3 separate regions of the Homo sapiens genome follow, and regions 2 and 3 are each linked to region 1. The links come from fine-mapping of genetic effects on gene expression. A gene starts in region 1. Each other region holds a variant in brackets. All regions are shown on one strand. Distances are from middle to middle. Region 1 holds the start of IK (IK cytokine). Region 2 holds the start of PCDHA4 (protocadherin alpha 4). Region 3 overlaps ANKHD1-EIF4EBP3 (ANKHD1-EIF4EBP3 readthrough).

What was found. PIP is the estimated chance that this variant, and not a neighbour inherited with it, causes the effect. A credible set is the group of variants that fine-mapping cannot tell apart.
Region 2: its variant is the best candidate, but not a certain one, in a credible set for the expression of IK in skeletal muscle (FUSION, PIP 0.56).
Region 3: its variant is the best candidate, but not a certain one, in a credible set for the expression of IK in fibroblasts (GTEx, PIP 0.59).

Annotation. Positions count from the first base shown.
Region 1 is chr5:140,643,286-140,653,656 of GRCh38, forward strand. IK (IK cytokine) reads left to right here and starts at 4,544. Exons shown (of 20, transcript NM_006083.4): 1 at 4,544-4,639; 2 at 5,186-5,252; 3 at 8,429-8,521; 4 at 8,803-8,862; 5 at 9,692-9,859. The coding sequence starts at 4,624. It overlaps NDUFA2 (NADH:ubiquinone oxidoreductase subunit A2), which reads right to left and starts at 4,345. Exons shown (of 3, transcript NM_002488.5): 1 at 4,198-4,345; 2 at 3,971-4,077; 3 at 2,000-2,393. The coding sequence starts at 4,298. The coding sequence ends at 2,302. MIR3655 (microRNA 3655) reads left to right here and starts at 4,559; the gene lies at 4,559-4,641. TMCO6 (transmembrane and coiled-coil domains 6) reads left to right here. Exons shown (of 12, transcript NM_018502.5): 8 at 279-390; 9 at 495-681; 10 at 815-909; 11 at 1,288-1,455; 12 at 1,700-2,119. The coding sequence ends at 1,813. RefSeq lists enhancers at 3,923-4,342, 4,083-4,618.
Region 2 is chr5:140,802,315-140,812,685 of GRCh38, forward strand. All of the region lies in intron 1 of PCDHA1 (protocadherin alpha 1), which reads left to right. All of the region lies in intron 1 of PCDHA2 (protocadherin alpha 2), which reads left to right. PCDHA3 (protocadherin alpha 3) reads left to right here. Exons shown (of 4, transcript NM_018906.3): 1 at 1-1,277. PCDHA4 (protocadherin alpha 4) reads left to right here and starts at 4,754. Exons shown (of 4, transcript NM_018907.4): 1 at 4,754-7,258. The coding sequence starts at 4,874. It also overlaps PCDHA@. The variant G/C (reference allele first, on the strand shown) is at 4,539.
Region 3 is chr5:140,511,147-140,521,517 of GRCh38, forward strand. ANKHD1-EIF4EBP3 (ANKHD1-EIF4EBP3 readthrough) reads left to right here. Exons shown (of 36, transcript NM_020690.6): 23 at 1,682-1,777; 24 at 2,217-2,333. ANKHD1 (ankyrin repeat and KH domain containing 1) reads left to right here. Exons shown (of 34, transcript NM_017747.3): 23 at 1,682-1,777; 24 at 2,217-2,333. Among named protein-coding and RNA genes, the nearest start is that of EIF4EBP3, 31 kb to the right of the region's middle. The variant A/G (reference allele first, on the strand shown) is at 4,780.

The sequences.
Region 1 (10,371 bases):
TCCCGGGTTCAAGCGATTCTCCTGCCTCAGCCTCCTGAGTAGCTGAGACTACAGATGCGTGCCACTATGCCCGGCTAATTTTTGTATTTCTAATAGAGACGGAGTTTCGCCATGTTGGCCAGGCTGGTCTCAAACTCCTGACCTCAGGTGATCCACCCACCTCAGCCTCCCAAAGTGCTGGGATTACAGGCATAAGCCACCACGCCTAGGCAACTGCTTCTCTTCTTAAAGGTGGAATTGACTATATACCTAGGGACTGCTTGCTTCCTGTTGCCCAGCCAGGTCAGCAATCCTCTGCTCATTGGCCATGGGGCTCTGTCTACTCTGGGGTTGCTGCTGTTGGACTTGGCTGGGGCTGTCCAGAAAACCGAGGATGCAGGACTGGAGCTGGTAGGTGAAGATGTCAGGTGAAATTCTGGGAGATGTTTCTTGATACTCTGGAATGCAGGTAACCTCTTCCTTCTTACACCTGACCCCCCAATTTGTCTTTGCAGCTGGCATGCCCCGTGCTTCGATGTCTAAGCAACCTGCTAACTGAGGCAGCAGTGGAGACTGTGGGAGGGCAAATGCAGCTCAGAGATGAGCGTGTTGTGGCAGCCTTATTTATCCTTCTGCAGTTCTTTTTCCAGAAACAGCCCAGTCTGCTCCCTGAGGGCCTTTGGCTCCTCAACAACCTCACTGGTACGCACCATAATCTGCCCAGGCCTGGACATTTGGATAATGGGGATATTTCCTCATGGCCTAGGCTGAGGTGGGTAGTATTGACAGGGGTGGTGGGGGAAAGCAGTTTTTCACCCTGGTACTTCTCTTCCAGCAAACAGTCCTAGTTTCTGTACCTCCTTGCTCTCCCTGGATCTGATTGAGCCTCTCTTACAGCTGTTGCCAGTATCTAACGTGGTGAGCGTAATGGTATGTATTGGGGTTACTTGAATCCAAGATCTGGTAGTCGGATTGTATGGGACAGCAGTCCTGAGCCCTCAGATGTACCCTTAGTTGAGAGCCAGCAGGTGGTGGTGTGTGGCCTCAGGGCCCAACCAATCTAGGTGTGTGTCCCTTAAACTGGATTATTTATCCTTGGACAAATCAACTAACCACCTTAAGCTTCAGTCTCCTCACTTATAACTGAGGATAATCTTGCATCATAGGGTAGTTGTAGGAGTATGAGAACATGTATGTAGAAGAGCTTGGCATGGTGCCTGGGCATGTGGTCACCATGTCATATATTTTAGCTATTGTTATGATCTTTGTGTTTCATTCTTTGTAGACTATATATGTGTCTATCTGCAGGTGCTCACAGTTCTGTGCAATGTTGCAGAAAAGGGTCCTGCTTACTGCCAGCGGCTGTGGCCAGGGCCCCTGCTTCCCGCCTTGCTGCACACACTAGCCTTTTCTGACACTGAAGTAGTAGGCCAGAGTTTGGAGCTGCTGCATCTGCTGTTCCTGTATCAGCCAGAGGTATAGGTTTCTGGCCCACATCCTCAGTCACCCCTGTTCTGAAGCCACACAGTGGCTCCCTTCCCATCCAGTCCTAACTATAGTTGTTTCTCTGGGCCTGGCTAACCTATATAGGTTCCATGTCAGAAACTTCATCCTCTTGTTGGGGAATGCACCCTCTGGAGTAGGCTGACCCATGAGGCTGTGGGAATTGAGTCTTAGGACACAGAGACCAGGTGTGTTGAATTTTCTTCCCTGCCCCTAGGCTGTTCAGGTCTTCCTGCAGCAGTCAGGGCTGCAAGCCCTGGAAAGGCATCAGGAAGAGGCCCAGCTCCAGGATCGTGTGTATGCTCTCCAGCAGACAGCTCTTCAAGGGTGATCTTGTTTCTCAATGTCACTCATTCCCCTCTCTCTTAACATCAAGCTTGTTTGTCCAGTAGAGCCTTTGGAGATTTAGGACCATAATGAGGTCTCATGTTCTCTGCTCCCACACCTAAGCCAAGACCTTTGGGTCCCAGCTCCTCCCCTTCCACTCAGCACTATCCAGGCAGGAGGACCAAAAGGGACTCAGTGTGGTCTACTTACTCTGGGGCCCTAGAATCCCTGCCCCCCCGCCACCCTTCATGTTTGCTTCAGCAGCTGGTAGCTTTTGATGAGACAGAATAAAGTTTTATTTTTATATTAAGCTACTTTGCCTCAGTGGTTGCACAGTAAGGGGTAGAGGGTAGATGAGGACAAGAACACCCTGAGAAAGTATTTTACAGCACAAGCTTTATGAGGAATAGGAGAACACATTTTTTTCACATTATACTAAGTCCAGCAGAGCCCAGGCTCTGGGGCTGTTGCTCTTAATCCTCAGTGGAGGCTTCAGGCTTTACCACTTAGAACGTTCTCCAGGGCTCTGGTTACCTGATCAGCACTGAAGTTGTTCAAAGGGACATTCGTCTCTTGGCCAAATGCTGAAGAGAGAGAGGGAGGTGTCTTTAACTATTCTGCACCCTGGAGGCTACCAAAGTAAAATAAAAGATCTTTGTCTTTATCTTAGTCTTGTTAAGACAGGAAGAGTATTAAAGAGATATGATCAAAATACATTTGGTATGCCTAGAATTAATACAATAGGTCTCAAACACATCTAGGAAGCCCAAGTCCAAATAGAATTTTGGCTGATTCTGGATGGCCGCAATGGGTTGTTTCAGGGAAGCTTTCGGGGGCACTGTAGGCATTTATTATTAACTACGGTGAGCAATGTATTGCATGGGTCCAGCCTCAGCTGGGAGCCCATTCTCTCTCTTTTTTTTTTTTTTTTTTTGAGACGGAGTCTCGCTCTGTCACCCAGGCTGGAGTGTGGTGGCACGATCTCCACTCACTGCAACCTCCACCTCCTGGGTTCAAGCAATTCTCCTGCCTCAGCCTCCTGAGTAGCTGGGATTACAGGTGCCCGCCACCACACCCGGCTAATTTTTGTATGTTTAGTAGAGACGGGGTTTTACCATGTTGGCCAGGCTGGTCTTGAACTCCTGACCTCAGGTGATCCACCTGCTTCAGCCTCCCAAAGTGCTGGGATTACAGGCGTGAACCACCGCACCCAGCTGGGTACCCATTCTCTAGGCTCCCATAGGCTATCTAACATAATACCCAGCACAATACACTAAAGTTACTCGTGTCTATCTCCTCCTGTAGTCTACTGGCTTTTGGAAGGAGAAGCTTTTTTCCTTCTCCAATTATTAGTGCATGTCTAATGTCTACTGTGTCTCACAGATATCTACTCTGAGAACCAATCTGCTTAAGGTGGTCACTCTCCTCCACCTCCTCCCGTCATTCCCAGGGCACCATATAGTTAAAAGCTGTGATTAAAATCCTGTTATTCAGTATGTATAAACATTTATTGCATACCTACAATGTGTTAGGCAACATGATAGGAAAATTTCATTTTGCAATACATTGCCATGCCAGTCTTAGAGGGGTAAGTGCATTCTAGGAAGGGGAATAAATGTAAAGGCTCAATCCTGTTAAACTCTAGCTGCATCTAAAGTTGCAGCTAGAGTTTAACAATAGTGCAAAACAAAGTTTTGATTCCGTTTTCTAATCTCTACAGTGAGAAAAGAAGAACACGCTTCCTCCTAACTAATGAAGATTAAATGAGTTAGGCAGGGAAGCACTCAGCACAGGGCCCAGCTCTATGTGCAAAATTACTGAGATTCTCACACACTACCTGGACTGACACTGGCTACACGTTATTTGGAGAAACTATATTGACTAACTTCTCTCCTGTCTGAAGCCCATTCTTAACTACAAAAACGTCAGCTCCTGGTCCCTACGCAGGATTCGGTCAGCCTGCATACTTATGTTGCCCGGAATACAACGCATCATATAACCCTGCGAATATAAATTTCTTCATGGAAACAAGATCAACAGCAAGGCTAAAGTCCGAGTTCTAGTTTCTCCACGGGTTTCTGCACGACCTTGGGCGGTCCCTTCTCTTCTCAAACCCTTGTTCCCCTACCGGAGCCCCAGACCCCTGGCGTCCCGCACTCACCGTAGCGGGCCCAGAGCTTGGGCTGCACATCGGAGCATTCGCGGATTAGGATGGGTAGGTCGGGATTCGCCTTCTTCAGCTCCACGTAGCGTTTCTCAATGAAGTCCCTGCGGGGCCGGAGAGAGCGCCGCGCGTGCTGTGGGCGGGGGCTTCCCTCAACTTCAGGGAGGTCGAGGTCGTGACCCTGGCGTCCCGAAGCCCGCCCGCCTCACCACGCCGCGCCTCACCTGACGCCCTGGCTGCCGGGCGAGCGCTGACATAAGTGGATGCGAATCTCACGCAGGCCCAGCTTTGCCCCGACTCCTCGACTTGCTGCGGCCGCCGCCATCCTTGTTAATATCGAAGTCGCCAATTCCAGGTCTTCAGGCCAAGTGCTCCGGTCTGACCAACCGCGGACCCTAAAGCCTAGCCCATAGGCTGCATGAGGCAGGGGCGGGGTAAAGCTTGGCCAATGATATAAAAGTATTGTAGGACCGCTGCGAGGTCAATTTCTTTGCGCTCGGGGTTGGTCGGAGGGAAAAACAGGAAGCGGAAAGGCTGCGAACGCAAAGCAGTGTGGGTTGATTCTGAGGTGCACTGTGGGAAAGAGCTTGTCGCTGCGGTGTTGCTGTTGGAGACTCGATTGTTGGTGACAGCGAAAGAACGATAACAAAATGCCGGAGCGAGATAGTAAGGCTCAGGCCATCCGTTATTTCTTCCCCATGGCACTTGGGGCACTTGGCGCATTATTGTAGCTTCTGAGCTTAAGCCGGGTGTGTGTGTGTGTGTGTGTGTGTGTGTGTGTGTGTGTATGTATGTATGTGTGACGCTTGAGCCCGGAGAAGCCACAGGGTCCTAAGTGAGGCCGACAGCTCCAAACTCCGTCCCCAGTCCTCACTCCTACTCCAAGTGATGATGGGCGGCTTTTGTGCGTGGATCGCTTTCCCCCAGTCCTGTCCCCATACTTAATCCTGGGTTGCGCGTATTTATCTTTTACGTAGTATTTTAGACGTGATCTTCCGGAAGTCTTCTCTGATCCTCCAGCGCAGGATTAGGGTCCTCTGCTTTGTGCTCCCACAGCTTCTTGTAGTTTCCTATTTCAGCACTTATTACATTGTGTTGACACTGTCGCTGTTCTAACTTTTGTTCTGTATTGTTCACTACTATATCTCAAATTTTTGCATAGGATCTGACACGTAAGAGACTGATTAAATTAACGTCAATTTTTTTTGTCAGGTGAGCCGTTCTCCAACCCTTTGGCCCCCGATGGCCACGATGTGGATGATCCTCACTCCTTCCACCAGTGAGTATTTTGTGCTAGGACCATGGAAATGAGTTGGGCAATGAATAGAAAAGTGGTGGTGATGGTGAAAGAATTCTGAATGTCTTGTCATCAAGGATGGTAAAAAATTATACCCGCTGGCCCTTTATCTCTGTGAGCCTTAACTGGATCAGGCCAAGTGCATAAGGGTATTAGAAGGGAAATTCCTGCAGGAAAGGTGTTAAGTTTTTTTTTTTTTTTATACGTGTTGTGTAATTACACATTATATAGGAATTACTTCTTCCAATAGCAAATTAAAACATAGGAAATAAGGGTAAAATCATCTTTTTATTTTTTTTGAGACTGAGTTTCGCTCTTGTTGCTCAGGCTGGAATGCAGTGGTGCGATCTCGGCTCACCACAACCTCCGCCTCCCGGGTTCAAGCAATTCTCCTGCCTCAGCCTTCCGAGTAGCTGGGATTACAGGCATGTTCCACTACGCCCGGCTAATTTTGTATTTTTAGTAGAGATGGGGTTTCTCCATGTTGATCAGGCTGGTCTTGAAATCCCGACTTCAGGTGATCCACCCGCCTCTGCCTCCCAAAGTGGTGGGAGTACAGGCGTGAGCCACCGTGCCTGGCCCCCGATAAAATCATCTTTGATAACATCCCCAATTCCAGTCCATTTCTTTTTTTTTTTCTTTTCTTTTCTTTTCTTTCTTTTTTTTTTTTTTTGAGACGGAGTCTCACTGTTACCCAGGCTGGAGTGCAGTGATGCAATCTTGGCTCACTGCAACCTCTGCCTCCTGAGTTCAAGCGGTTCTCCTGCCTCAGCCTCCCAAGTAGCTGGGACTACAGGCATGTGCCACCATGCACGACTGATTTTTTTTTTTGTATTTTTAGTAGAGACAGGGTTTCACTGTGTTCGTCAGGCTGGTCTTGAACTCCTGGCCTGAAGTGATCCACCCGCCTCAGCCTCCTAAAGTGCTGGCATTACAGGCGTGAGCCACCGTGCCCAGCCTCAGTCCTTTTCTTAGAAGTAACCACAGTTACCTTTTTTGGCATATCTTTTCCTCCCGTTGCCCAGGCTGGAGTTCAATGGCATTATTTCTGCTCACAGCAACCTTTGCCTCCTGGGCTCAAGCAATTCTTCTGCCTCAGTTTCCCCAGTAGCTGGGATTACAGGCATGCCCCACCATGCTTGGCTAATTTTTGTATTAGTAGAGACAGGGTTTCGCTATGTTGGCCAGGCTGGTCTTGAACTCCTGACCTCAAATGATCTGCCCGTCTCGGCGGCCCAAAGTGCTGGGATTACAGGCGTGAGCCACTGCGCCTGGCCCTCCTACTCTTTTTTAAATGCATTTATACACATACATGCATATCTGAGGAAAACACAACATTGCTTTGTGATTTAAAATATTTGAGTTAAATGATATTATGCTGTATATATCATTTTTGCAACTTGCTTCTTTTTAAACCCTGCTCAGTGTTTCTGAGATTATCTTTCAGAGCAGTGACAAGCATTCCCTCCTTGGCTAAACTTTAGTCAGGTTCCCCAAAGAGTCCCATTTTTCAGCAGGACTCATCCGTGGCCTGCTGAGCACAGTTTTAACAAAGAAATCAACCACCGCTCCACCCCCATACCTAACCAAGTTGCTTTTAGTAATTTTCTATAAATTCTCACTTGTCCCTGTTGTATTCGGAATTAAGTTCAGTCTCTCTACTCTATTACAATGGTCTTGACTCTTGTTACAGTAGTCTTCAATAAAGTCTTCCTTGGGGAGAAGAGGAACTTGATTAGATATCAAGTTGGATTGGATATCAAGAGTGGGAAAACTTTCTGTGAACTGACTTAGGATTCCTTTTTAAAACTGAGGTCAGCAGGCCAAGGAAGAGCCCTAGTCAGAAGAGAGCTTTAAAGGAGTCTGACTTTAATTTGATCAAGAGAGGAGTCTTTGTTAGTGTACCAATTAAAATAATCTCTTGTACCATTAGTGCTGTCTTTCCCTCTTTGGGAAACACCATCATAGTTTAGTCAGTCTCCAGCTAATAAACGCTTAGTCTGTTTCAGACTGATTCTTTTCTTTTTTTTATTTTTTTGAGACAGAGTCTTGCTCTTTTTGCCCAGGCTGGAGTGTAATACCTAGATCTCGGCTCACTGCAAACTCCGCCTCCCAGGTTCAAGCGATTTTCCTGCCTCAGCCTCCTGAGTAGCTAGGATTACAGGCGCCCACCACAACGCCCAGCTAATTTTTTTGTATTTTTAGTAGAGATGGGATATCACCATGTTGGCCATGCTGGTCTTGAACTCCTGACCTCGGGTGATCCGCCTGCGTCAGCCTCCCAAAGTGCGGCGATTATAGGTGTGAGCCACTGCACCCGGCCAGACTGATTATTTTCAAGGCTATAACTGAATTAAATTTACAGGCCTTCTTATATACATATGTCAGTAATGGACCAGGCTAAATATAAATAAATGGAGTTGCTGGCTCATAGGATATATATACTTAAATTTTAACAAATACTGCAAAATTGCCCTTCAAATTGGTTATACTGGTTTACATTCTCATCAGCATTATATGAGAGAGTCCCCTTCCCAAATTCTCACTCACACTTGATTTATCAAACTTTCTGGTAGTTAACACTCTGATGCATTAAAAGTGGCATGGCATATCTGGTCGGGCGTGGTGGCTTACACCTATAATCCCAGCACTTTGGGAGGCTGAGGTGGGCAGATCACCTGAGGTCAGAAGTTTGGGACCAGCCTGGCCAACACCTCTAATAAAAATACAAAAATTAGCTGGGTGTGTTGGCGGGCACCTGTATTCCCAGCTACTTGTGAGGCTGAGGCAGGAGAATTACTTGAACCCAGGAGGCAGAGGTTGCAGTGGGCTGAGATCATGCCACTGCACTCCAGCCGGGGCAACAGAGGGAGACTCTGTCTTAAAAAAAAAAAAAAAAAGCTGGGTGCGGTGGCTCATCCCTATAATCCCAGCACTTTGGGAGGCCGAGGTGGGTGGATCACAAGGTCAGGAGTTCAAGACCAGCCTGGCCAATATGGGTGACAGTGAGACTCCGTCTCAAAAAAAAAAAAACAGTGTCATATCTTTGTTTTAATTTGTATTTCCCTGATTTCTGTTAATTTAATCATGATTTTTACTTGTTCCTTTTTCATTTCTTATTGAGTCCTAATATTTAAAATCTTTGCCTTTTCTTCTAGATCAAAACTCACCAATGAAGACTTCAGGAAACTTCTCATGACCCCCAGGGCTGCACCTACCTCTGCACCACCTTCTAAGTCACGTCACCATGAGTAAGTCTTTGGGTGATCCAACCTGTCTCCCAACTTGTTTCTTGCTCCTTCCTATTTCTTTCTACTAAGTAGAATGACTTTTAATAGTCCCTCAGGTATTTATGATACTCTCTAAAGTTTGAGAACTGCCCACCTACAAATATTGGTGTGGATTTCTGCTTGATTGAAAGTGTTACTTTGATCAGTATTCTAGGTCTTTCTAAAAATCCTCAAGGAGACTTCTTGGGGTTTCTGGGGCTGTGGCAATATTTTGCTATCAGTGAATTTCTCGTCTCTTCTAGGATGCCAAGGGAGTACAATGAGGATGAAGACCCAGCTGCACGAAGGAGGAAAAAGAAAAGGTGAAGGAAGGGTGAAGGGTTTTAGATTTTAAGGTGGATAGTGTTTAGGGGAAAGAAGTAGGGGCTAATTATGAAGCTAGAAACTAAGATTTTGTCTTGAGGCTCTCTACTTTCTTAATGAAACAGAGTGATACTTAGAGTGGCAGTAGAGGGCTTTGGAATAGGCCTATCTATATTTTAATCTCATCTTCGCTAGTTTCTTGGTGGATAACCTAGACATTTGCTTAGCCTCTCTAATCCACAGATAGAATGGAGATACAGTAGCAATAATAACTTTTATCAGGATGTCATGAGGATCAGCTGTGAAAGTACATGTAGGCATTTAGCACCAATGCCTGGCATATGGTAACCACCCAATAAATCTTGACGGCCATCATCATTATTATATCATCATCGTTATTTATATGATACGAAAGTTTCAGGACCTGGTACTTGGCTTTTCCTTTATTCTGAGAGTGGACCAGCAAATAATACGTTCTTTTCAGCTGAAATTTAGAAGGTGGTAAAAATTCAGAAGATTTTCTGATTTTTGTGTGGAAAAGTCTTATATCTATAGAGAATTGGTAGAGTTGGGTGGTATTAAAAAGTTCTGAAGTGACAGATGGAGTGTCCCAAGTTGGCACTGGAAAAGTATATCTATAAGCTGGAAGAAGTTGTAGTTCTGATTTTGAGTAACTACGAAGAGGTGGCCAGCAGTTCTATCAGGACAGACATGAGCTTTTCCCCATAGAGAGTAGGTTGGAGATGTAGGGAAGCAAGCAGGAACAGTTCTGTTGACCTTGAGGTAGCAGCTGATGAGCCTTATACATTTGCCTTTCTCTGGTCACAGTTATTATGCCAAGCTACGCCAACAAGAAATTGAGAGAGAGAGAGAGCTAGCAGAGAAGTACCGGGATCGTGCCAAGGAACGGAGAGATGGAGTGAACAAAGATTATGAAGAAACCGAGCTTATCAGCACCACAGCTAACTATAGGGCTGTTGGCCCCACTGCTGAGGCGTGAGTACTGAGGGAACAGGGCATGGTTCCCTCAGCATCCGAGAGTCATGCAAATACAATGTGAACTCTTCCTCTTACTTTCCTGCCCTGGAGCCTACAATAAGCGATTTCAGAGGCATTTGCCACCCACAAAGGGCTGTTCTTTTTTTTTTTTTTTTTTGAGATGGAGTCTCGCTCTGTCACCCAGGCTGGACTGCAGTGGCACGATCTTGGCTCATGGCAAGCTCCGCCTCCCAGGTTCATGCCATTCTCCTGCCTCAGCCTCCCGAGTAGCTGGGACTACAGGCGCCCGCCACCACGCCCGGCTAATTTTTTGTATTTTTAGTAGAGACAGGGTTTCACCGTGTTAGCCAGGCTGGTCTCGATCTGACCTCATGATCCACCCGCCTCGGCCTGCTGAAGTGCTGGGATTACAGGCGTGAGCCACCGCACCTGGCCCCCCAACCCCCTTTCCCCCACCCCCTTTTTTTTTTTTTGGAGACAGAGTCTTGCTCTTGTTGCCCAGGCTGGAG
Region 2 (10,371 bases), 160 kb after region 1:
GCGTGTCCGACCGCGACTCAGGAGTCAATGGACAGGTCACCTGCTCGCTGACGCCCCACGTCCCCTTCAAGCTGGTGTCCACCTTCAAGAATTACTACTCATTGGTGCTGGACAGCCCTCTGGACCGCGAGAGCGTGTCGGCCTATGAGCTGGTGGTGACTGCTCGGGACGGGGGCTCGCCTTCACTGTGGGCCACGGCCAGCGTGTCCGTGGAGGTGGCCGACGTGAACGACAATGCGCCGGCATTCTCGCAGTCCGAGTACACGGTGTTCGTGAAGGAGAACAACCCGCCGGGCTGCCACATCTTCACGGTGTCTGCGCGGGACGCGGACGCGCAGGAGAACGCCCTGGTGTCCTACTCGCTGGTGGAACGGCGGGTGGGGGAGCGCGCGCTGTCGAGCTACGTGTCGGTACACGCGGAGAGCGGCAAGGTGTACGCGCTGCAGCCGCTGGACCACGAGGAGCTAGAGCTGCTGCAGTTCCAGGTGAGTGCGCGCGATGCGGGCGTGCCGCCTCTGGGCAGCAACGTGACGCTGCAGGTGTTCGTGCTGGACGAGAACGACAACGCGCCGGCACTGCTGATGCCTCGGGTGGGTGGCATCGGTGGCGCAGTGAGCGAGCTGGTGCCGCGGTCAGTGGGTGCGGGCCACGTGGTAGCGAAGGTGCGCGCAGTGGATGCAGACTCAGGCTACAACGCGTGGCTTTCGTATGAGCTGCAGCCTGGGACCGGCGGTGCGCGCATCCCGTTTCGCGTGGGGCTGTACACGGGAGAGATCAGCACGACCCGTGCCCTGGACGAGGTGGACGCCCCGCGCCATCGCCTACTGGTGCTGGTGAAGGACCACGGTGAACCCTCATTGACCGCCACGGCCACTGTGCTGGTGTCGCTGGTGGAGAGTGGCCAGGCACCCAAGGCCTCGTCCCAGGCGTCCGCTGGCGCCACGGGCCCGGAAGCTGCACTGGTGGATGTCAACGTGTACTTGATCGTCGCCATCTGCGCGGTGTCCAGTCTGTTGGTGCTCACACTGCTGCTATATACTGCTCTGCGGTGCTCCGCGCCGCCAACCGAAGGCGACTGTGGGCCGGGCAAGCCCACGCTGGTGTGCTCCAGCGCGGTGGGGAGCTGGTCATACTCGCAGCAGAGGCAGCAGAGGGTGTGCTCTGGAGAGGGGTTGCCCAAGACCGACCTCATGGCTTTTAGCCCTAGCCTTCCTCCTTGTCCAATTAGCCGGGATAGAGAGGAGAAACAGGATGTGGACGTTGATCTCTCAGCCAAAGTGAGTAATTTTTATTTATTCTTTCCAAAATGTCTTTGTTTTTCATTCCTCAATGTTTCCACTCCTCTGGAAATACATTAATAGTTAAGTATGAATTATGTGATTCATAATTAGACTTTTCCAGTTTTGTGGTTTTGTGGTTAAAACGGTAAGATTTTTGTTGCTAATTTTTGAACCAAATCAGCAGTAAGTTATGATATCCACACTTGTAATTTTGTTTTGTTATTAGGTGCAGTAGTAGAATTATTTTATTGCTAAATGCCTGGGTATAAGACAAATATTTTTTCTTAGATGAATTGCATTATTTAGAGAATCTGACTTCGACTTGTTTTATACTTATCCCTATACAATGCTTCTTCAATATCTTTTGCCACTTTTCATTTGGACTTCCTACTACCTGTTAGTACAAATGTTACTTGCTCATTTTATGAGTTCACCTAATGCTTATAACTCCCTATTGATTATGCTTTTCCACCTTCAGTTTCAAAAATTAGATCATTACACCTGTTGTCTTTTATGGAACCTCTTTTATTCTCTTATTCACTTGTTTGGAGTCTCAATCCTTATTTTTTACTTGAATATGATTCATTTTAGGCCTTGTGCTCTAATTTGGCAATACCGTTTATTGTTTCTTGATTTCCCAGTTGGGAAAAAAATCGAGAATAACAATTGCATTTAGAATTGCATCTTTGTTCATCTTTAGTTTATCACTACTTTATTTAATACTACTTTAATAATACTACTGTATTATATGTTAAAATTTATTACTAATAACTAAAATATCAATATGAAGTGAAAATTTAATAGTTGTATAGTATATTTATATATTCATTTTAAAAGAATGTTTTAAATCTTGTTAAAAATAATTTTCAATCTGAACAATATCTTGAAAATAATTATGGTATCTAATTTTAAAACTATCCCTACTAGCAAAACTTTTTATTCATTAGTGTCTTTTGCATACCATACTAAGGATGCTAATATGAAATAAGTTTGATAAGCCAATGTTATAATGTTATTACTGGTTAACTTCTCTGAATAGCATCCTGCCTATTAATGTGTGCCATGCAATAAGTAGAAAACTCCAAATAACCAGAACCAAATGAAATTGAAGGTAGACTTTTTTCTAATCACTACCCCTACATATTTGGTTATCTCCTCTAGCAATTAGTTGGACTCCCATTTAAGTTTCCCTACCACTGGAGAGAAATAGTAACCAACTGAAACCTGGTTAATACTCATTGACAGTGTGGGAGGTCTAACACGTAAAATAGATATTTTTCTTGACTCCTCTCCTTCCCCTCACTTCCATTTTCTTTATTTCCTTTTTTGGCACTATCCTTTGTTGCTCCCTTGTCCATGAAGTAGTAGCCATAGTGTGTCCATCTCAGGTCAGTATTTTAAAAATTTAGTTCTGTTATCAGCTTCTTGAATATAATAGAGTCAGCCAAAGTACTTGTCTTCCCAGATATGGAACTTCAATCTTCAAATCCAGCTTGCCTCTTGAAACTATTGTCTAACAAGACTCTTGGCAAAGACATTTTGAAGACTTTGGAATTTTCACTTCACAGATGTACTGATGCTATGCCAAATAAATATTGAATAGCTACCAAATAAACATTGTTTTCTATTCTGCTGCATTCCCCATCTGTACATTAAAATACCTGGTAAATGAAAATATTACAAATGAAATGGGTGAAAATGGAATTCTTCCTCCTTTTTTCCAATGTGCTTGATGTCAATGATCATTTTGTAAAAATATAGTTTGGGTCCCCACATAGTGAAAGTACTCTGGTTTCTGTTTGATTCAGAAATTTGGTGGGTTTTTTGTTGTTGTTTTGGTTTTTGTGTGTGTGTGTTTGTGTGAGTGTAGTTCTTCAATAGAGAGGGAGCGTAAAGCTATTTTCACTAGATTGATTTTTTGTTTAGACAAACAGGATGAAAATAACTTTATGGATATAGGAGGCAAGGAAAGTTTTTAAATGGCTACCATTATGTCTTTATATATTAAATTTCTTTATGTAAGAAAATGTATTGTGGTTTATTTATTGGGAAGTCTTCATTCCCCATTAATACCCAGGATGATTCAAAGATCATGATTACCAAGAATTAGAATAAAAATTAAGCTAAAACCCAAGTTTTCAACATTGAACTTGAAATACATCTTAATTGGGGAAATGTCTAGAGACTTTTTTTGTATCTTTAGAAAATCATAGAGGCTATTGAAACACCACATTTTCCCAACTAGATATGCGATCACCTTAAATTAATGCATTTTATTAGGCAATGGAAGGAAGCAAACATTTTCTGCAGGGTAAATATTTAGGAAATATTAGGTAAGTCCCTCTGAGCTATTAAACAATTAAGATACAACTATTCCCTTTAAAATATATATTCCAAAAAAGGACACACATACTCAAATGCTTATAAGAGATAAATTAATGTAATAAATGGCCCACGCGATTCCACCCTGGTGCTGCAGTTTGTAAAAGAAGAAAAAATACCTGTTCAATTGGTTTGATCATGACATTCTTCATGGGTCAGGGAAGTTTTAAGTGGTTATAAAATGGGGTAAATTGGCTTTAGAAGAGTTTAGAAATGATGTGGATTACTTATAGACAGGACAAAATGAACATGCTTGTTTATTAAAAAAAGCTATTGGAAGCAGGAAATATTCAGTTTGGCTAAAATATATAAGCACTATAGGAGAAAATAGAAGCTTAGGCACATTACATACTGGAGAACAAGCAAGTACTTATAAACTGTAAGAGTCAAAATGAGAATACCAGCGTTTCTCATGGGAGCAAATGAGTTCCAATGAATAAAATTATTTGGAATGCTTTTCCATGCAAGCTATTTGCTATAACTTCCTGCTTCCTTGCACTTTCAGCCCTGACATGACTCAAGGAAGACATCTAATTAAATGCTGATGGTCTTTGATCCTTTTATAAAACATCTGCAAATTTCCCTGTCAATAGCTTGTTCTTGGCACCAGAAGTTCCCTAGAGACCAGTCCCCTCAAGTCAACAACACCAGAAATACTAGGGTGAAGAGGGTGTTATCATTAATAAAAAAAAACCCTGGAATTCTTGGGAACACAGGAATCTGTAATGAATTTTTCTAATCAACAGTTTACAGTTACATGTTTACAAAGTGTATAGTTAGGTCTCTGTAATACTTAAAACCTGTGTTGAAAAAATTATTTCTACTGAAGTAAAAGTTGCCCCTATGGCGAAACTAAGGACCACACTCAATCAATCA[G/C]TGGTACAATGTGTACCACAGTAGTACAAAATGTATTCCTATTCTCCGAAACGACTGAAATAATAAATAAAACCAAGTAGTTTACAGTAGAGTGTGTGGGGGTTTCCACAATTGCTACTTACGGTTTGGAGCCACATGATGTCGCTCTTTACCACAAAATACATGAGAGAAGGAGGAAGAAGGGAAAATTCCTTCTATTCTTACTGGAAGGAACCATATACACTCTTTGGAGTCTGAAATATGGAGGATGCAGCTGCACTTGACTGACCGATTAAAAGATTTCCCTTGACTTTGAGAAACGATATTTAATCAGAACAAAATACTGTGCACTAAAGATGGAGTTTTCCTGGGGAAGCGGCCAGGAATCCCGGCGTCTGCTGCTCTTACTTCTTCTCCTCGCAGCCTGGGAGGCAGGGAACGGTCAGCTCCACTACTCGGTCTCCGAGGAGGCCAAACACGGCACCTTCGTGGGCCGCATCGCGCAGGACCTGGGACTGGAGCTGGCGGAGCTGGTGCCGCGCCTGTTCCGGGTGGCGTCCAAGGGCCGCGGAGGCCTTCTGGAGGTAAATCTGCAGAATGGCATTTTGTTTGTGAATTCTCGGATCGACCGGGAGGAGCTGTGCCGGCGGAGCGCGGAGTGCAGCATCCACCTGGAGGTGATCGTAGACAGGCCGCTGCAGGTTTTCCATGTGGACGTGGAGGTGAGGGACATTAACGATAACCCGCCGGTGTTCCCAGCAACACAAAAGAACCTGTCCATCGCGGAATCCAGGCCGCTTGACTCTCGGTTTCCACTAGAGGGCGCCTCGGATGCAGATATCGGGGAGAACGCCCTGCTCACTTACAGACTGAGCCCAAATGAATACTTTTCTCTGGAAAAACCACCTGATGACGAGCTGGTAAAAGGTCTTGGGCTTATATTACGGAAATCTTTAGACAGAGAAGAAGCTCCGGAGATTTTTTTAGTGCTCACAGCCACTGATGGAGGCAAACCCGAGTTGACTGGCACCGTTCAGTTACTCATCACAGTACTGGATGCCAATGACAATGCCCCAGCTTTTGACAGAACCATTTATAAGGTGAGATTACTAGAAAATGTTCCTAATGGAACATTGGTAATTAAACTTAACGCCTCAGATTTAGACGAAGGATTGAATGGGGACATTGTTTATTCATTCTCAAATGATATTTCGCCAAATGTGAAATCCAAGTTTCACATAGATCCAATTACTGGACAAATTATTGTAAAGGGATATATTGACTTTGAAGAAAGCAAATCCTATGAAATTATTGTAGAGGGCATTGATAAGGGACAGCTCCCACTTTCTGGCCATTGTAGAGTTATTGTGGAAGTAGAAGACAACAACGATAATGTCCCAGATTTGGAATTCAAGTCTTTATCACTTCCAATTAGAGAGGACGCTCCACTGGGTACAGTCATCGCCCTGATCAGCGTGTCCGACAAAGACATGGGTGTCAATGGGCTGGTCACCTGCTCCTTGACGTCCCACGTCCCCTTCAAGCTGGTGTCCACCTTCAAGAATTACTACTCGTTGGTGCTGGACAGTGCCCTGGACCGCGAGAGCGTGTCAGCCTATGAGCTGGTGGTGACCGCGCGAGACGGGGGCTCGCCTTCGCTGTGGGCCACGGCCAGTGTTTCTGTGGAGGTGGCTGATGTGAACGACAACGCTCCGGCGTTCGCGCAGCCCGAGTACACAGTGTTCGTGAAGGAGAACAACCCGCCGGGCTGCCACATCTTCACTGTGTCTGCGTGGGACGCGGACGCGCAGGAGAACGCGCTGGTGTCCTACTCGCTGGTAGAGCGGCGGGTAGGGGAGCGCGCGCTGTCGAGCTACGTTTCGGTGCATGCGGAGAGCGGCAAGGTGTACGCGCTGCAGCCGCTGGACCACGAGGAGCTAGAGCTGCTGCAGTTTCAGGTGACCGCTCGCGATGCCGGCGTGCCACCTCTGGGCAGCAACGTGACGCTGCAGGTGTTCGTGCTGGACGAAAACGACAACGCGCCAGCACTGCTAGCGCCTCGGGCGGGTGGCACTGGTGGCGCAGTGAGCGAGCTGGTGCCATGGTCGGTGGGTGTGGGCCACGTGGTGGCAAAGGTGCGCGCGGTGGATGCTGACTCGGGCTACAACGCGTGGCTTTCGTACGAGCTGCAGCCGGGGACTGGTGGCGCGCGCATCCCGTTCCGCGTGGGGCTGTACACTGGCGAGATCAGCACAACGCGTGCCCTGGACGAAACGGACGCTCCGCGCCACCGCCTACTGGTACTGGTGAAGGACCACGGCGAGCCCGCGCTGACGGCCACGGCCACTGTGCTGGTGTCACTTGTGGAGAGTGGACAGGCGCCAAAGGCCTCCTCACGGGCGTTGGTGGGCGCTGTGGGTCCCGATGCTGCGCTGGTGGATGTCAACGTATACCTGATCATTGCCATCTGCGCGGTGTCCAGCCTTTTGGTGCTCACGCTGCTGCTGTACACCGCGCTGCGGTGCTCTGCGCTGCCCACCGAGGGCGCGTGCGCTCCGGGCAAGCCCACGCTGGTGTGCTCCAGTGCGGTGGGGAGCTGGTCATACTCGCAGCAGAGGAGGCCGAGGGTGTGCTCTGGTGAGGGCCCACCCAAGACCGACCTCATGGCCTTCAGCCCCAGTTTACCTGACTCTAGGGACAGAGAAGATCAGCTGCAGACAACTGAGGAATCCTTTGCAAAGGTTAGTGTATAACATCCTTTTGTTTAATTTTCGTATTGTTTTTCTCTATCAACTTCTTCGTAAATTTATTTCTAAGAGTCAAATTTCCCTGGGTTAAAATTTTACCTCTTTTTACATATCCATTTTAACTAAAGTCTTTTGGAATTATAGGACATCAGAGCAATATATATTGCCTTCCTTCATTTTATGCTGCATTATTCAATGCATATTAACAGAACTGTAATTTCTAGTAAATTTTCACTATATTCACCCTCTTTGTTTTTGGTAATAATCAACATTTTAGAAAACATTTTACTATTATTTAACCTATTACATATAAACAAATGTGCACAGGCTGAAATAATAAAGCTCCATAAATTGTATGAAAGTGAAAAGCTCCGTTGCCTCCATCGCTGAAGCCCCTCGCATGCACCTGCCAAATCACTTCCCTTATTTTTCCTCCAGTGTAACCGCACATTTGCCTTTTATAACTGTTTGTTCGGGGCCTGTTTTGGGAACGTTATCTAATTGGACTTGCACAACATGTATTGTCTGTGCATTTGTGTGTTATTTGTATTTATCACTCATTGTTTATGAAATTATCCATGTTGTTATATGTAGTTGTAGTTTATTTATTTCTGTTTCTAGTACTATTTCATAAATATACTATACCTTATTTATTCTACTGTTCAGGAATTTGCATTGTGCCTCAATGTCTATTTCAAATAATGCCATCATAAATATATTGTACATTTCTTTGATGCCCATGTACACAGATTTCTCTCAGGTTTTTGCCTAAGAGTTGTGTTTGTGGGTCACAGAATATGTGTGTATCTTTGTCTTTTGTAGCTAACACCAACCAATTTTCCAAGATGTTTTTACCTGTTTACATTCCTAGTAGTGCATAAGGCTTTCTGCTGGGCCACATCATCTCTACATTTGTCAGGTTATTTTCATGTTAGCCATTTTACTGGGTGACTTTTGTAATCTCATTTTGAAATTATTTTATATTTAAATGAAGTTGAGTACCTTTCTATTTTATTTTGGCAATTTTTATACCTTATTTTGTGCAATAGCTGCTCAAATCTCCTATTTCTCTAGTCTGTTGTTTTTCTTTTCTTTTTTCTCTTCTTTTTGCTTCCATAGAACTTTATTTATTTCCTTATCTTGTTTTTCTTATTACTTAAACAAATCTTGTATTCTGAACATAACTCCTTTTTTTAGTAGTTTTCAACCTCATGGCTAGTTTTTAATTCTTTTTTGTCTTTTGGTGAATAGAAAGTCATAATTTTGATTAAACTCAATTTATCAATTTTTGCTTCTGATCCTATTTCACAAAGATAATTTTCTGTGGTATCTTTTATTTCATTGTTTACATTACATCTACAATCCATTTGGAATATACATATTTTTATCATTGTTGTGAGGTAGGGGTCAAGATTTATTTTTATTTCTTCTTATTATTTTTATTATACTTTAAGTTCTAGGATACATGTGCACAACGTGCAGGTTTGTTACATAGGTATACATGTGTGCCATGTTCGTTTGCTGCACCCATCAACTCATCATTTACATTAGGTATTTCTCCTAATGCTATCCCTCCCCCAGTCCCCCACACCTCAACAGGCCCCAGTGTGTGATGTTCCCCACCCTGTGTCCAAGTGCTCTCGTTGTTCAATTCCCACCTATGAGTGAGAACATGCAGTGTTTGGTTTTCTGTGCTTGTGATAGTTTGCTCAGAATGACGGTTTCCAGCTTCATCCATGTCTCTACAAAGGACATGAACTCACCCTTTTTTACGGCTGCATAGTCTTCCATGGTGTATATGTGTCACATTTTCTTAATCCGGTCTATCATTGATGGACATTTGGGTTGGTTCCAAGTCTTTGCTATTGTGAATAGTGTCGCAATAAACATACATGTGCATGTGTCTTTATAGTAGCATGATTTATAATCCTTTAGATATATACCCAGTAATGGGTCAAATGGTATTTCTAGTTCCAGATCCTTGAGGAATCGCCACACTGTCTTCCACAATGGTTGAACTAGTTTACACTCCCACCAACGGTGTAAAAGCGTTACTATTTCTCCACATCCTCTCCAGCATGTGTTGTTTCCTGACTTTTTAATGATTGCCATTCTAACTGGTGTGAGATGGTATCTCATTGTGGTTTTGATTTGCATTTCTCTGATGACCAGTGATGATGGGCATTTTTTCATGTGTCTGTTGGCTGCATAAATGTCTTCTTTTGAGAAGTGTCTGTTCATATCCTTTGCCCACTTTTTGATAGGGTTTTTTGTTTTTTTCTTGTAAATGTGTTTAGGTTCTTTGTAGATTCTGGATATTAGCCCTTTGTCAGATGGGTAGATTGCAAAAATTTTCTCCCATTCTGTAGGTTGCCTGTTCACTCTGATTGTAGTTTCTTTTGAAGATTTATTTTTTACTACCATTTTTTTGTTGGACTTTTAAAATGAGTTTGGAAGTGTTCCCTCTCCTTCAATTTTTTTTTTTTGGAAGAGTTTGAAAACAATTATCATTGATTCTTCTTTAAAAGTTTGGTAGAATTCTCCAGGAAAGATATCTGGTTTTGGGCTTTTGTTGTTGTTGTTGTTAGGAGGTTTGGATTACTGATTCAATCTCCTTACTAGTTACAGCTTTGTTTAGATTTTTTATGATTATGTCTTGGTAGTTTGTATGTTTCTAGGAATTAATCAATTTCTTCTAGGTTATTGAATTTTTTGGTATATGATTTTAAAAGCCTCTTATAATTGTGGCATCAGGTGTAATGCCACCTCTTTTGTTTCTGACTTCCAGTCTTTTTGTTTTTTTCTTAGTCTAGCTAAGGGGCTTGTCAGTTTTGTTGTTTTTTCAAAAAATCAACTAAGTTTAAAAACTTAATTTAAACTTTTTTTCATTTATTTTTGCTCTAATCTTTATTATAGTATTTCCTCCCTTTGCTTTGGGCTTCCTCATTTGTCCTTTTTTTCTAGTTCCTTGAGTTGTTAAGTTTTTTATTTGAGATCTTTCTTCTTTCTTCATTTTTAGTGTAGGCATTTACAACTCCCTTCTTTGTTTTTGTTTTCATGTTTAAGAGACAAGATCTCACTATGATGTACAGAGGCACGATCATAGC
Region 3 (10,371 bases), 130 kb before region 1:
CTCATATATATTAAAGTTCACTTATCTGCTGTATTTTTAAAAGCCTTCCCATTGGTATAGCTTCCCAAACTATAAACTACTTAGTAGGGCATGTAAAGACCTGCATAATAAGCTTCATGTCAACCTCCCCATACAAATCATTTATGCTACTATCCCCTTTTGCTCACTGTTTTCTAGTTACTGGCCTAGAATGCACTAAATTTTCAACTGCCTCAGGGCCTTTGCTCACTGATTTTCTTTTCCTGAAATGATTTCCTTTGCTGTTCACCTAGCTCACCTCTCTACTCATCTGTTAGCTCCAATTTTACATGTCAGTTCTCAAAGAGTATTTCTCTAACACCAAATCTGAAAAAGGTCCCTCTGTTTCTCTTTTATAGTTGAGTTTTGATTTTCCTTACCCCAATTTGTAATTATATCTTCAAACATGTACTTACCATTTTAATGCCTGTCTCGCCAACTAGACTGGTAGGTCCATGAGGACAAGAGTCATGACCATCTTTTTCAGCACTGTTTATATACCCAGTTGTTTAGCACAGTGCAATTTACATATAGTGAAATGCATGAATCTTAAGGTACATGGTTTAGTTTTGATAAACGTATACATACATGTAACCCATACCCCATAAACATATAAATTATTTCTGTAACCCTAGAAGGTTCCCTCTTGCCCACTTTTAGTCACTTCCCTGCCCCAGAGGCAAGCATTTCTCTGATTTGTATCTCCATCACACTAATTCTTAAGGATGTTTTAGAACCTTGGTAGGAAGGGAAACTATGCAAGCTTGGTTACATTAAAATAGATATGCTGGCCGGGTGCGGTGGCTCACGCCCATAATCCCAGCACTTTGGGAGGCCGAGTCAGGTGGATCACCTGAGGTCAGGAGTTCAAGACCAGCCTGGCCAACATGGTAAATCCCCGTCTCTACTAAAAATACAAAAATTAGCCAGGCGTGATGGTAGGCACCTGTAATCTCAGCTACTCCGGAGGCTGAGGCAGGAGAGTTGCTAGAACCCGGGAGGCGGAGGTTGCAGTGAGACAAGAGCGTGCCGTGGCACTCCAGCCGGGGCAACAACAGCGAGACTCCCATCTCAAAAAAAAAAAAAAAAAGATATGCTTAGAATTGATTACAGATCTTTCAACCCTTGATAATGGCATTTAGAAAGTGTTTTATTTAGATTCAAGTCCTAAGGCTCAGAAAGTTGTGATAGTCCACCTTGTTTAGTTAGTGAAGTAGAGGCAAAGTAAGACTTTGAAATTTAAAAAAAAATTACTTATTTTAGGACTCATTTCCCTTTTACACTGAGGTTCATTTTACATCACCAATGTTTGTTTAATAGATTTATTCTAGGAGATACTGTTTTTCTACAAAAGCTTTTTCTAATTTCAGTGGGATTAAATTCAGGAGAAATGTTGTCTAGTCCACCATCCATTCCTGAGCACACATTCTTGTCTTTTATGCCTTTCTTTTTATAAGCTGAATGCTGATCTTATTTTTATAATTTTAATTTTAAGCTTAATATTCTATTTGGAAGTATTTGCCTTTTTATTCTTAAATTGGTAGGCATATATGCAAAATCAAGGGATTCCTTTGTAATTCTGTTGTTTTACTTTCTTTTATTCTTAAGAATAATAATTTTTCTTTTCATGCTACCTTGTCTAAGATTGTTGTACTTCTTATAGGGTCATGTAAAAGTTGTTCAATATTTGGTAAAGGAAGTAAATCAGTTCCCTTCTGATATAGAATGCATGAGATACATAGCAACAATTACAGATAAGGTAAGTTTAATATGCTACTGAAGCACATTTTTGTTCTTTGTGGAATGATATGCCAAAGTGTGCAGTTAGGAACTTGTTCTTTTTATATTCTGAAAGGTTGGTCACCTGATCTCTTTATGCGTTTGTTTCTCCATTTGCAAAATAGAGGGGTATAATACTTTTGATAAACTATTTTGAGATTTCTACTGTGGACCATAGTCACAGTGACTACACTAAGGTACTAAACCATTAGCCTAATGAGAAGGCTTCCTAAGGACATGCAGGTTTTTAGGGAAATGGTGTCTTATTTTTGTGAAAGATTGGACTCAAAGGATAACTTAATTTGGTTTAGTGACTTTTCAGTTTGAACTTTAACCTCTGGACTTTAATGTGCTCATCAGCTTAAGTTTTATTTGGCCTCTTTCATTATATATTTACATAATTCTATTTCCTGCTGTAGGAACTGTTGAAAAAATGTCATCAATGTGTCGAAACCATTGTGAAGGCTAAAGACCAGCAAGCTGCAGAAGCAAATAAGAATGCGAGTATTCTTTTAAAGGAACTTGATCTGGAAAAGGTGAGTGGGAAAAATAATTTTCCTTTTTAGAAATTATTGAGGGTGGGGGCCGGGCACGGTGGCTCACGCCTATGATCCCAGCACTTCAGAAGGCCAAGGCGGGTGGATTACCTGAGGTCAGGAGTTCAAGACCAGCCTTGCTAACAAGGTGAAACCCTGTCTCTACTAAAAATACAAAAATTAGCCAGGTGTGGTGGCACACCCCTGTAATCCCAGCTACTCGGGAGGCTGAGGCAGGAGAATTGCTTGAGCCCGGGAGGCAGAGGTTGCAGTGAGTCGAGATCGTGCCACTGCACTCCAGCCTGGCTGACAGAGCGAGACTGTCTCAAAAAAAAAAAAAAAAAGAAAGAAATTATTGAGGGTGGGCGTGGTGGCTCACACCTGTAATCCCAGCACTTTGGGAGGCTGAGCCTAGGAGTTTGAGATCAGTTTGGTCAACATAGAGAGGATGGCCTGAGCCCAGGAGGCAGAGGTTGCAGTGAGCTGTGATTGTGCCACTGCACTCTAGCCTGGGTGACAGAGTGAGACCCCATCTCTACAAAAAAAAGTTTAAAAAACAGTTGGGCATGGTGGTACATGCCTGCAATCCTAGCTATTCAGGAGGCTGAAGTGGAAGGATCACTTGAGTCCAGGAGTTCGAGGCTCCAGTGAGCCATAATTACACACTGCAGTCCAGCCTAGGCAACAGATCGAGACTCTCTCTCTATTAAAAAAAAAAAAAAAAAAAAGGAATTGACAGATGTCATGGCTCATGCCTGTAATCCCAGCACTTTGGGAGGCTGAGGAGGGTGGACTGCTTGAGCCCCAGAGTTTGAGACCAGCCTGGGCAACATGGCAAAACCCCATCTCTACAAAAAACAAAAAATTAGCCAGGCATGGTGGCAGGTGCCTGTAGTCCCAGCAACTTGGGAGGGTGAGGTGGGAGGATGGCCTGAGCCCAGGAGGCAGAGGTTGCAGTGACCTGTGATTGTGCCACTGCGCTCTAGCCTGGGTGACAGAGTGAGACCCCATCTCAGACAAAAAGAAAATCTGCTAGAGTAAACGTGTCGCCTATATGACCAATATTCTTAATAATATATGATTCAAAGGAAATAGGTAATAGATTCTTAAACCACCATCAATTTTTTATTCTGACCTGTCATTCAAAAAAATATATTTTGAGCCCAAATATAAGGGAAGGACTAGATTTTGAGCAAGATCCCAATTTACGGCTGGGAGCGGTAGCTCACACCTGTAATCCCAGCATTTTGGGAGGCCTAGGCTAGAGGATGGCTTGAGCTCAGGAGTTCGAGACCAGGCTGGGCAACATAGTGAGACCTTGCCTCTACTAAAAGTTTAAAAAATTCACCGGGCATAGAGGTGCACACCTGTAGTCCCAGCTACTCAGGAGGCTGAGGCGAGAGGATCTCTTGGGCCTGGGAGGTTGAGGCTGCAATGAGCTATGATTGTGCAATGAGCCACTGCACTCCAGCCTGGGTGACAGAGCAAGACCCTGTCTCAAAAAAAAAAAGGTCCTGTCTGGGCGCAGTAGCTCATGCCTGTAATCCCAGCACTTTGGGAGGCCGAGGCGGGCAGATCACCTGAGGTTAAGAGTTTGAGACCAGCCTGGCCGACATGGAGAAACCCCGTCTCTGCTAAAAATACAAATATTAGCTGGGTGTGGTAGTGCATGCCTGTAGCCCCAGCTACTTAGGAGGCTGAGGCAGGAGAATTGTTTGAACCCGGGAGGCAGAAGTTGCAGTGAGCTGAGATCACGCCACTACACTCTAGCCTGGGTGACAGAGCTAGATTCTGTCCCCCCAAAAAAAAAAAAAATCCCATTTTACCAAATGACATCATTACTGCCTAAGTGGTTTTAACATTGGTCTGTGAAGAAATTTAGTAAAGCATTGGAAATCATTTGTTTATTGTTAAGATCTGGGTTACAAATGGTTTATTAGATTCCCAATTAAAGACTATCCAGAAAAAAGACGGGAGGAGCCAAGGTGGCCGAATAGGAGCAGCTCCGGTCTACAGCTCCCAGCGTGAGCGACGCAGAAGACGGGTGATTTCTGCATTTCCATCTGAGCTTTGAAGAGAGCAGTGGTTCTCCCAGCACGCAGCTGGAGATCTGAGAACGGGCAGACTGCCTCCTCAAGTGGGTCCCTGACCCCTGATCCCTGACCCCTGAGCAGCCTAACTGGGGGGCACCCCCCAGCAGGGTCAGACTGACACCTCACACGGCCGGGTACTTCAACAGACCTGCAGCTGAGGGTCCTGTCTGTTAGAAGGAAAACTAACAAACAGAAAGGACATCCACACCAAAAACCCATCTGTACATCACCATCATCAAAGACCAAAAGTAGATAAAACCAAAAAGATGGGGAAAAAACAGAGCAGAAAAACTGGAAACTCTAAAAAGCAGAGCGCCTCTCCTCCTCCAAAGGAACAAAGTTCCTCACCAGCA[A/G]CGGAACAAAGCTGGACGGAGAATGACTTTGACGAGCTGAGAGAAGAAGGCCTCAGACGATCAAATTACTCTGAGCTACGGGAGGAAATTCAAACCAAAGGCAAAGAAGTTGAAAACTTTGAAAAAAATTTAGAAGATTGTATAACTAGAATAACCAATACAGAGAAGTGCTTAAAGGAGCTGATGGAGCTGAAAACCAAGGCTCGAGAACTACGTGAAGAATGCAGAAGCCTCAGGAGCCCATGCGATCAACTGGAAGAAAGGGTATCAGCGATGGAAAATGAAATGAATAAAATGAAGCGAGAAGGGAAGTTTAGACAAAAAAGAATAAAAAGAAACGAGCAAAGCCTCCAAGAAATATGGGACTATGTGAAAAGACCAAATCTACGTCTGATTGGTGTACCTGAAAGTGACAGGGAGAATGGAACCAAGTTGGAAAACACTGCAGGATATTATCCAGGAGAACTTCCCCAATCTAGCAAGGCAGGCCAACATTCCGATTCAGGAAATACAGAGAACGCCACAAAGATACTCCTCGAGAAGAGCGACTCCAAGACACATAATTGTCAGATTCACCAAAGTCGAAGGAAAAAATGTTAAGGGCAGCCAGCGAGAAAGGTCGGGTTACCCTCAAAGGGAAGCCCATCAGACTAACAGCAGATCTCTCGGCAGAAACTCTACAAGCCAGAAGAGAGTGGGGGCCAATATTCAACATTCTTAAAGAAAAGAATTTTCAACCCAGAATTTCATATCCAGCCAAACTAAGCTTTGTAAGTGAAGGAGAAATAAAATACTTTACAGAGAAGCAAATGCTGAGAGATTTTGTCACCACCAGGCCTGCCCTAAAAGAGCTCCTGAAGGAAGCACTAAACATGGAAAGGAACAACCGGTACCAGCCGCTGCAAAATCATGCCAAAATGTAAAGACCATCGAGACTAGGAAGAAACTGCATCAACTAACGAGCAAAATAAACAGCTAACATCATAATGACAGGATCAAATTCACACATAACAATATTAACTTTAAATGTAAACGGATTAAATGCTCCAATTAAAAGACACAGACTGGCAAATTGGATAAAGAGTCAAGACCCATCAGTGTGCTGTATTCAGGAAACCCATCTCACGTGCAGAGACACACATAGGCTCAAAATAAAAGGATGGAGGAAGATCTACCAAGCAAATGGAAAACAAAAAAAGGCAGGGGTTGCAATCCTAGCCTCTGATAAAACAGACTTTAAACCAACAAAGATCAAAAGAGACAAAGAAGGCCATTACATAATGGTAAAGGGATCAATTCAACAAGAAGAGCTAACTATCCTAAATATATATGCACCCAATACAGGAGCACCCAGATTCATAAAGCAAGTCCTGAGTGACCTACAAAGAGACTTAGACTCCCACACATTAATAATGGGAGACTTTAACACCCCACTGTCAACATTAGACAGATCAACGAGACAGAAAGTCAGCAAGGATACCCAGGAATTGAACTCAGCTCTGCACCAAGCGGACCTAATAGACATCTACAGAACCCTCCACCCCAAATCAACAGAATATACATTTTTTTCAGCACCACACCACACCTATTCCAAAATTGACCACATACTTGGAAGTAAAGCTCTCCTCAGCAAATGTAAAAGAACAGAAATTATAACAAACTATCTCTCAGACCACAGTGCAATCAAACTAGAACTCAGGATTAAGAATCTCACTCAAAACCGCTCAACTACATGGAAACTGAACAACCTGCTCCTGAATGACTACTGGGTACATAACGAAATGAAGGCAGAAATAAAGATGTTCTTTGAAACCAACGAGAACAAGGACACAACATACCAGAATCTCTGGGACACATTCAAAGCAGTGTGTAGAGGGAAATTTATAGCACTAAATGCCCACAAGAGAAAGCAGGAAAGATCCAAAATTGACACCCTAACATCACAATTAAAAGAACTAGAAAAGCAAGAGCAAACACATTCAAAAGCTAGCAGAAGGCAAGAAATAACTAAAATCAGAGCAGAACTGAAGGAAATAGAGACACAAAAAAACCCTTCAAAAAATTAACGAATCCAGGAGCTGGTTTTTTGAAAGGATCAACAAAATTGATAGACCACTAGCAAGACTAATAAAGAAAAAAAGAAGAATCAAATAGATGCAATAAAAAATGATAAAGGGGATATCACCACTGATCCTACAGAAATACAAACTACCGTCAGAGAATACTACAAACACCTCTACGCAAATAAACTAGAAAATCTAGAAGAAATGGATAAATTCCTCGACACATACACTCTCCCAAGACTAAACCAGGAAGAAGTTGAATCTCTGAATAGACCAAGAACAGGAGCTGAAATTGTGGCAATAATCAATAGCTTACCAACCAAAAAGAGTCCAAGACCAGATGGATTCACAGCCGAATTCTACCAGAGGTACAAGGAGGAGCTGGTACCATTCCTTCTGAAACTATTCCAATCAATAGAAAAAGAGGGAATCCTCCCTAACTCATTTTATGAGGCCAGCATCATCCTGATACCAAAGCCGGGCAGAGACACAACCAAATAAGAGAATTTTAGACCAATATCCTTGATGAACATTGATGCAAAAATCCTCAATAAAATACTGGCAAACCGAATCCAGCAGCACATCAAAAAGCTTATCCACCATGATCAAGTGGGCTTCATCCCTGGGATGCAAGGCTGGTTCAGTATACGCAAATCAATAAAAGTAATCCAGCATATAAACAGAACCAAAGACAAAACCACATGATTATCTCAATAGATGCAGAAAAGGCCTTTGACAAAATTCAACAACCCTTCATGCTAAAAACTCAATAAATTAGGTATTGATGGGACGTATCTCAAAATAATAAGAGCTATCTATGACAACCCCACAGCCAATATCATACTGAATGGGCAAAAACTGGAAGCGTTCCCTTTGAAAACGGGCACAAGACAGGGATGCCCTCTCTCACCACTCTTATTCAACATAGTGTTGGAAGTTCTGGCCAGGGCAAATAGGCAGGAGAAGGAAATAAAGGGTATTCAATTAGGAAAAGAGGAAGTCAAATTGTCCCTGTTTGCAGACGACATGATTGTATATCTAGAAAACCCCATTGTCTCAGCCCAAAATCTCCTTAAGCTGATAAGCAACTTCAGCAAAGTTTCAGGATACAAAATCAATGTACAAAAATCACAAGCATTCTTATACACCAACAACAGAGAGCCAAATCATGAGTGAACTCCCATTCACAATTGCTTCAAAGAGAATAAAATACCTAGGAATCCAACTTACAAGGGATGTAAAGGACCTCTTCAAGGAGAACTACAAACCACTGCTCAGTGAAATAAAAGAGGATACAAACAAATGGAAGAACATTCCATGCTCATGAGTAGGAAGAATCAGTATCGTGAAAATGGCCATACTGCCCAAGGTAATTTACCGATTCAATGCCATCCCCATCAAGCTACCAATGACTTTCTTCACAGAATTGGAATAACTACTTTAAAGTTCATATGGCACCAAAAAAGAGCCCACATCGCCAAGTCAGTCCTACGCCAAAAGAACAAAGCTGGAGGCATCACACTACCTGACTTCCAACTATACTACAAGGCTACAGTAACCAAAACAGAATGTTACTGGTACCAAAACAGAGATATAGATCAATGGAACAGAACAGAGCCCTCAGAAATAACGCCGCATGTCTACAACTATCTGATCTTTGACAAACCTGAGAAAAACAAGCAATGGGGAAAGGATTCCCTATTTAATACATGGTGCTGGGAAAACTGGCTAGCCATATGTAGAAAGCTGAAACTGGATCCCTTCCTTACACCTTATACAAAAATCAGTTCAAGATGGATTAAAGACTTAAACGTTAGACCTAAAACCATAAAAACCCTAGAAGAAAACCTAGGCATTACCATTCAGGACATAGGCATGGGCAAGGACCTCATGTCTAAAACACCAAAAGCAATGGCAACAAAAGCCAAAATTGACAAATGGGATCTAATTAAACTAAAGAGCTTCTGCACAGCAAAAGAAACTACTATCAGAGTGAACAGGCAACCTACAAAATGGGAGAAAATTTTCGCAACCTACTCATCTGACAAAGGGCTAATATCCAGAATCTACAATGAACTCAAACAAATTTACAAGAAAAAAACAAACAACCCCATCAAAAAGTGGGCAAAGGACATGAACAGACACTTCTCAAAAGAAGACATTTATGCAGCCAAAAAACACATGAAAAAATGCTCCTCATCACTGGCCATCAGAGAAACGCAAATCAAAACCACAATGAGATACCATCTCACACCAGTTAGAATGGCGATCATTAAAAAGTCAGGAAACAACAGGTGCTGGAGAGGATGTGGAGAAATAGGAACACTTTTACACTGTTGGTGGGACTCTAAACTAGTTCAACCATTGTGGAAGTCAGTGTGGCGATTCCTCAGGGATCTAGAACTAGAAATACCATTTGACCCAGCCATCCTATTACTGGGTATATACCCAAAGGACTATAAATCATGCTACTATAAAGACACATGCACACGTATGTTTATTGCGGCATTATTCACAATAGCAAAGACTTGGAACCAACCCAAATGTCCAGCAATGATAGACTGGATTAAGAAAATGTGGCACATATACACCATGGAATACTATGCAGCCATAAAAAATGATGAGTTCATGTCCTTTGTGGGGACATGGATGAAATTGGAAATCATCATTCTCAGTAAACTATTGCAAGAACAAAAAACCAAACACCGCATATTCTCACTCATAGGTGGGAATTGAACAATGAGAACACATGGACACAGGAAGGGGAACATCACACTCTGGGGACTGTTGTGGGGTGGGGGGGAGGGGGGAGGGATAGCATTGGGAGATATACCTAATGCTAGATGACGAGTTAATGGGTGCAGCGCACCAGCATGGCACATGTATACATATGTAACTAACTGCACATTGTGCACATGTACCCTAAAACTTAAAGTATAATAAAAAAAAAAAAAAAAGACTATCCAGTATCCTAGGATGTGTGCTGTAATGGAAAAATTAAAACAAACAAACTAAAACATTGCCTTTCTGAGGCTCAGTCTGCTTACCTGGAAAATGACAGTGTTGATATACTGAGTTTGGAAATTATATTAAAAGAAAAAATGTCATGATCAAGTAGAGTTATTCTAGGAATGCAAGAGATAGCTTAACATAAAAATATTTTGTTGATAATTAAAGGAAGAGAAAAAGTATGATTATTGAGAGATGCTAAAATTTTGACAGCAAATTTTGGTTTAAAAAAACTTCGTAAGCTAAAGAGAGAAGAAAAGTTTGCTTACAGTCATTGAGGAGAAAAAAAGATAACTTATCCATAATAAAAAATGATCATGTGAATAGGCAATTCACAGAAAAAGAAATACAGGCTGGGCATGTGTGGTGGCTCATGCCTGTAATCCCAGCACTTTGGGAGGCTGAGGCAGGAGGATCACTTGAGACCAGCAGTTCAAGACCAGCCTGGGCAACATAGTTGGACCCTGTCTCTACTTAAAAAAATAAATTAAAATAAATTCTATAAATAGGAAAGAATCAT